Homo sapiens: one gene and its partner. The protein of the gene in region 1 purifies or fractionates together with the protein of each later gene. This does not show direct contact. Each region holds a gene or a part of one and is shown on either strand. Other genes may lie near its edges. The genes, in order: ELFN1 and ETFB.

The links.
Region 2: the proteins of ELFN1 (region 1) and ETFB fractionate together in Homo sapiens (co-fractionation; one large-scale study listed by BioGRID). This does not show direct contact.

The regions. Positions count from the first base shown.
Region 1 is NC_000007.14:1,668,803-1,673,309, forward strand, and holds the start of ELFN1 (protein ELFN1 precursor), read left to right. Parts: upstream 1-1,474; 5' UTR 1,475-1,552; exon of another isoform or gene 1,553-3,379; intron 3,380-4,507. UniProt on the Homo sapiens protein: Postsynaptic protein that regulates circuit dynamics in the central nervous system by modulating the temporal dynamics of interneuron recruitment.
Region 2 is NC_000019.10:51,344,362-51,347,028, forward strand, and holds the end of ETFB (electron transfer flavoprotein subunit beta), read right to left. Parts: coding exon 2,539-2,667; intron 1,021-2,538; coding exon 850-1,020; 3' UTR 808-849; downstream 1-807. UniProt on the Homo sapiens protein: Heterodimeric electron transfer flavoprotein that accepts electrons from several mitochondrial dehydrogenases, including acyl-CoA dehydrogenases, glutaryl-CoA and sarcosine dehydrogenase.

The DNA of each region.
Region 1 (4,507 bases):
GAGAAAGGCCACAGCTTAGGTGTTCCAAACCACCGGTGCCCTTCCTGCCGGCCCCTGGGGCTGTGCTGGGTTTCCAGGGCCCCTGCCCCCCAGTATTTGCATGAAATCGTGGGGGCGCACTGGCTTTCGTCCTAGCACTCCCCTTCAAGGCTCTGCACCCCTATCACGGGAGCCCCACCCAGCCAGCCGAAGGAGGCCACAAGCTCTAAATTACTAAATTCGGGCCAGTGCTGGGGGCCTGGGAGCCAAGGCAGCTCAGAGCCCACTCTCCGATTCTGGCTCCTGGAGAACCCTAGGACCCGGGCGTGTCAGGCCCTGCAGCCGGGCTAGGCCGGTCCATACAGGACTGAACGGCGTCGTGGGCGTTCATTCACATTCCCTCTCCGGTCCCCACACACTATAGGATTTATCTTGATTTGCTGCCTTTGAATTGAGTCAACTCTTTTGTATGCTCGTTGAATTGCCCAGCTGCTGGCGGCGAGCGGAGAGCGTGCCGGGGGTACTGAGGCCGGGAACCAGAGGCGGGCGGGGGACAGGAAGCGGGGAGGGGGCGCCGGCGGGGACGCGCGGGCTGCGCGGGGACTGGAGAGGGTCCCCAGGCGCCGGCCGTTCTGCGAACGCGGGCTTGTCCAGGCACCGCCGGGGCCTGCCCGGCCCGAGCGTGGAGTCCCGAGGCTCCTGCCGGGGGTCCAGGCTGCCCCTGGGGCTCTGCCTTCGACGCGCTGTGTAGGGCCAGATTCTGGGCCTCTCTTGACTCAGTTTCCCTTCCTGTAACATGCGGACGGGGGCTTCCGCACAGGCAGGTTGTCAGGGTGAAACTGAGCCGAAGAGTGCTCCAGAACCCCCTGAAGTCCTCACAGAGGTTGGGGTGAATGAAGGAAGGAAGCGGGGCCAGGGCTGGGCAGAGGAGGCCCGGCCTGCGCCCTGCGTTCTCCGCCCCTAGGTCCCTGCCCTCCCGGATAAGGGGCGGACCGACGGGAGGACCTGAGAACGCCTTGGCTTTGCTTGAGGTGGTGGGAGTCGCGGGTAGCTTGTTCAGCCAACAGCTGTCGCCCCCACTCCCCCCACCCACCCACCCACCCCCTCCACCTTTTAGATGTGGGCGGGGAGGGCCGGGGACGGACCGCGAGGACGCCCCCTGCGCTTTCTAGGACCTCCCCTCCTTCCCCAGCCCCTGCGCGTCGCCGGGAGAGGGAAGGAGCGGGTTGCCGCGGGGAGCCGAGGAGAGCAGGGGGCTCGGGAGGCCAGGGAGAGAAGGGGAGGGCCAGAGGCTCCGAGCCGGACTCGCGGCGGAGGAAGAGGGGGTGGAAGGGAGCGCGCAGGCGGGCGAGGGAGCGAGGGAGGGAGAGAAGGAGGGAGGGAGGGAGGGAAGGGGGGCGGGAGGGGGCAGGGCGAGCTTGAATTCCCCCCCGGCCGCGCGGCGAGGGGCGGGGCCGCGCGCGCAGATCGATGGGCGAAGCTGGGGAGGAATTTCAATCCCGGGAGCGAAGTTAGAGCTTGAAGGACGGCGGCGGCTGCGGGCGCAGCCCCGGAACCGAGGCCGGGCGGGCAGGTAAGCGGCGAGCGCGGCCGGGCGCTGAACCTGGGGGACTTGGGACCCGGACCACCCCCGGGGAGCGGCGCGGCCAAGCCCCCCGCCACCTCGAACCCCGGGCGTCCCCGAGTGCGCAGCGTGCGCCCCCAGCCCCTGCTGCGCCCCCAGGCCTGGCGCGCGATCCGAGCGCAGCGGGCAAAGTTGGAGGAACTTGGCGGCGGCGGAGCGGGCGCAGGCTCAGCCCGACAAAGCCCGGGGGCCCGGGTCGGGGTCGCTGCCGCAGCCCGCACGCTGCCCCGTGCCTCCGAGAGGTCCCTTCCCCAGCGCCTCTCTCCCTTCCGTCCCCCTTCGCCGTCCGCACCCTGCCCGGCGCCCCCCAGACGCGGCCCCCTGCCCTTCCCTTCCCGGAAATTAGGGGGCTGTCCTCACCTCCTGGCCGAGTCGCTGACCCCTCCCCAGGCTCGCATCGCCCTCCCTGCTGGGCCGCCCTCCCCCCGACGCTGCGAGCCTCCTCGCTCCGCGCGGGGACCGTCCAGTCACGCACGGGGAGGGGTCACATTCCTCGGTCCCAGCCCCTGAGTCCAACCACTGGCGGGGGGGTGGGGTGGGGGGCTTCGCTCCGAACTGAACTTACTGGGTGCTTTCCACCCCTCGCCCCACCTGGAGTCCATCCTCGTCCTCGTCCCTCTGGGGGCTGGGAGGAGGCTGCCAAGCCTCCGTGCCCCAACCTGCCTCTAAAGACAAGCGCCCCCATTTCCATCCTTTGAAACCTGCAGGTCACCTGCTTGATGCTGAGGGTGGGGCGGGGGGCACTGCCTGCCGTACCGCACACCGCCCCCCCCCCCATAAAAACGACACCCTCTGAGATGAAAATCCGGCTTTTCCAGGTCTCAGCTGTGTGACCTTGGGGCAGGTGAATCTCAGAGCCTCAGTTTCCACACCTGTGAAATGGGGCTAGGATGATCATGCCTTCTGAAAAAAACGAAGGCTTAGCAGAAAGGGTCGAGGCCGGCCGAGCCAGGTGTGCACGTCCTCAAAAAGCCTCCGTGCCAGCACTTTCCCTTCCTGCACACCCGGAGTGGGGCCTCTTTGGACCCTGGCTTGGGCTGGCTGCCTCTGCCGCTCATTCCCTCGATTGGGCTAAGGGCTGTGCGGAGAGCCTGGGGACAGAAGCTGTGGAGGGACCGGGAGCCAGGAGCAGATGTAAATGGCAAATCTCCCCATATTGCCTCTCTCAGGGGCTGCCCCCTAGAGAGGCCCCCAGCCTCCAAAGAGGTCCAGCTTGCACCCAGCCTTGGGGGAAACCCCATTGGGTTGGGCATAGGTTGCTTGAAAAGCATCAACATGCTCCTCTTCTCTGCCTGGCTGGCCCCCTGGCCTCCTGCCCCCTGGGTCCCTGCCCCTGCCACCTTTTAATTGAACAAGCATTGAGAAGACTGGCTTACAGGTCCCAGCCCAGGTTTGCGCCCCACTCCACCAAAGCAGGGGGACAAACTCCAGGGGGCCGTGTGTGGGAGGGGGTCACCCCCTCACCTGGATTTGAGGGGGTTTGGAGCCCAGCCAGGACCCCAGCACTTGGGTCCCTCATTTTCCTGGGCATACGGTGGTCAGGGAGTTCTGATCCCCACCCCTAGTGGGCAGAAGACCTGGGGGTCTCCAAGTCAGAGATTGGGGGCCATGCCCCTCCCCCTGTCCTACAGCCAGCTGTGCAGCCCCCTCCTCCTCGGCCGCAGCAGGACTGCTGTGTGCGTATAATTCAGGATGATACAGCAGGCTCGGCAGGCAGCTCCCGACTCCCAGAAAAGCCAGTGGGCACCTGAACCAGAGCCACACTCCTGAGGCCTGGTAAGTCTGGGGTAAGGGTGCAGGGATGTGGTGGGCACCTGCACCCAGGACCAGAGGAGGGGAGGGAGGGCGGCGTCCCTTCCCCACCATGCCCCAGGACTGCCACTGGAAAGCACTGATTTTTCAAAGTGTCTTTGGAGGCAGGCTCCCCACACCTGGGCCAGGGAGAGGCTGCTGCTCCTCCACCTCCCTACCACGGTCCCCACCAAGAAACAGGTGTCCGGGGTCCCAGCAAGCGCCCAGGGCCAGAGCCTGGAGTAGTTGCCTGTCTCGGACCCCGGCATTTGAATATTTTCACCCTAAATGTATACTTGTAGGCTTCACCTGCTCTCCAGGAGAGAAAAATTAATGGGACTAAAATATGACCACAGTGCCTGAGATCAATGGGGTAAAATCGGAGTGGCTGCCTGGGTCCCATGTTGGTGACTTTCTCTATCTGTTTCCAACACACACGCATCAGCTCTAGATTTTGATAGAATTTTCTAAGCACTCAGGAAAGCCTCCTTCTAAGGTCCCCCTGAGGTCAGAGCCCCCACCCCAGGATCCCTTCCCCCCCGACAAGCCAATTCCCCATTTTGGTAGGGGACTGTGTTTCTCCGTGCCAGACTCAGACACCATCGCATTGGAGGAAATTTATGAGCAGAGGTGCATGGACTTGGGGTGTTCATATATCTTCACAAGAAAGAAACAGGCAGGCCCTCGAGATGCCCGGGTGGGTGGTGCATAAATACACGAGGGGGCCGGTGGCGGGGCGGGGGGCAGGATTAAAAATGCAAGTGAGTGACAGGCGAGAGATAGATAGATCTCCAGGGCTGGGTGATGAGGCCATAAATTTCCAGGCGTGAACCTGGAGCGGATGGTGGCACCGCCGCGGACATTGGATACATTTGTCATCTCTCCAGCGCCCCCCCCCGCTCTTTCCTTTTTGTTTTTGTTGTGGATTTGGTTTCTTCCAGCACAAGCTCAGGTGTCAAGTGGCCTTGGGTGGGTGTTTGTGGGGGTGGCTGGTGGTGGAGCCACTGCAGTGGACGATGGCGCCATCCATTCCAGCACCAGCTGTACAGATGGGGAGACTGAGGCCCGGATTGGGGTGGGGCCGGAGAGGGTGGTGGAGGGGTCCTATGTCTG
Region 2 (2,667 bases), on another chromosome or scaffold:
ATAGGAAGGAACTCACCCAAGATCTAGCTGGCAAAGGTAAGAGTGAGCATATGAAATCAATATATCTGACTCTATCAGAAGGCCAGAGGAATGGAACACAATTTTTTAAATAAAAAATTAGTCCAGGCGCTGTGGCTCACGCTTGTAATCCCAGCACTTTGAGAGGCTGAGGCGGGCGGATCACTTGAGGTCAGGAGTTCAAGACAGCCTGGGCAACATGGTGAAACCCCGTCTCTACTAAAAGTACAAAAATTAGCCGGGTGTGGTGGTGCAAGCCTGGGCAACAGAGCGAGACTCTGTCTCAAAAAACATAATTAAAAAAAAATTAACCTGACTGTAGACCCAGGCTGTTCATTGCAACGCTAAGTTTTGATTCTCTGTGGCTTGTCTGTCTCACACCAGAACCACAGCTTCTGGCCTCATTCTCTCCTGTGTCCCTGCTGAGACTGGGGACACAAGAGAGAATGAGTGTCCTGCAAACATCGTGGATAAAAGCCCTTCTTCTCACCCACCTCACTGATATTTGTGTTCCAACACTCAACTTGGAAGTCATCTCCCTGGGAAATCTCTGACCCCACCGGCTGGGCCAGGCCAGGTCCCCCAGTTGGGTTCCCAAGGGCCCAGTGTGCCTCCACGTCTAGCATACTTCACCCCGAATTACAGCTGCCTTTGTCCTCATTGTCCCCCGCATCAATACAGAGGCTCCTCATGGGCAGGGACTGGATCCACAGGGCCTGGCACACAAAAGACTCAAGTAAATGTTGAATGAACCAAATAATGGGTCTCTAGGAAATAAGTTAACAGAGATAGATGTTGAGAGTCAGTTTTATTGCCATCTCTGGGAGGGGCTCAAATCCGCCCAATCTCCTTCAGCTTGGCCACCAGGTCCTCAGTGGTCTCCACCTTGACGCCGGCCGTGCGCTGGGGCGGGTCCTCCACACTGATCACAGAGAGCTTGGAGGTCAGGTCCACACCCAGGTCCCCAGGCTTGATCACCTCGATCTTCTTCTTCTTGGCTTTCTGCACATGGGAAGCCATTGTTCACAGGGCTGTGGAACTCCTGCCACCCTTCCTGCCACCTCCTTCCCATGGGTGCCAGGCCTGCAGACCAGTCCCATGGGCTGAACCCTCTGGACCCACCCACTGGCCAGGACACGCGAAACTTCTCACAGGGCCACACCTGGTGTGGACAACTCCTGCTGGCTAGGAGGCCCTGGGAGGCCCAACTACTGCAGCAGTCCTCCTTTAGGTAACCAAATCAGGAAGCCCTTCACTGGCTGCAACAGAGTGGCAAACCCATCCTTTTGGTAGTAATGACTCAGTGGACTTTTGGTTGAGATGGCATGCTGAAGGCTCCCAATAGGCTGAGATGATGCACTGAACCCTCCCTATAGACTGAGATGATGCGCTGAACCCTCCCTATAGGCTGAGATGATGCGCTGAACCCTCCCTATAGGCTGAGATGATGCGCTGAACCCTCCCTATAGGCTGAGATGATGCGCTGAACCCTCCCTATAGGCTGAGATGATGCGCTGAACCCTCCCTATAGGCTGAGATGATGCGCTGAACCCTCCCTATAGACTGAGATGATGCGCAGAACCCTCCCTATAGGCTGAGATGATGCGCTGAACCCTCCCTATAGGCTGAGATGATGCGCTGAACCCTCCCTATAGGCTGAGATGATGCGCTGAACCCTGCCTATAGACTGAGATGATGCGCTGAACCCTCCCTATAGGCTGAGATGATGCGCAGAACCCTCCCTATAGGTTGAGATGATGCGCTGAACCCTCCCTATAGACTGAGATGATGTGCTGAACCCTCCCTATAGACTGAGATGATGCGCAGAACCCTCCCTATAGGTTGAGATGATGCGCTGAACCCTCCCTATAGGCTGAGATGATGCGCTGAACCCTCCCTATAGGCTGAGATGATGTAGTGAACACTCTGTAATGGCTGAAATGACTCATTGAACCCTCCCCATTAGTTGAGATGATCCAGTGAACCCTCCCTGTTGGCTGAGATGAATATTCTCTATTGGCGGAGATGACCCACTAAACTGTTAATATTGGCCAAGATGACCCAGCGAACCCATCTACTGGCCATGATGATTAGTGAACTCTACCTGTTAGCCAAGAGACCCCATGCACCCTTCCTAGTTAACTAAGATGATCTACATGGTAACTTCACATTGGCAAAAATTACCAAGGGGACCCTCCCTAATGAACCTAGATGACCCAGTGAACTTGTTCCACTGGCTGGAATGACAAAGGGAACACCTTCTGCTGCCCAGCGAAGGCTTTCTACTGGCCTAGATACCAGCAAGCCCTCCCTGCTAGCCAAAGCAGCCCCCATGAACTCTCAGTATTGGCAGAGATGACCCAGCAAACTCTCTCTATCAGCCAAACTCCAGGTGACGGCTTCCTGTGCACGAGACCTCCTTTGGATCCTTCCCTCCCCACGTGCGACCACCGGGGGGCACTGGGCTGGCAATGTGCTTGCCACCCCCAGGCCCTCAGTGCCCGCTGGCCAGGGGCTCACCATGATGTTGGGCAGCGTGGCGTAGCGGGGCTCGTTGAGCCTCAGGTCAGCTGTCACCACAGCTGGCAGCTTCAGGCGCAGGGTCTCCAGGCCCCCATCGATCTCCCGCTCCACTTTCAACTTGTCCCC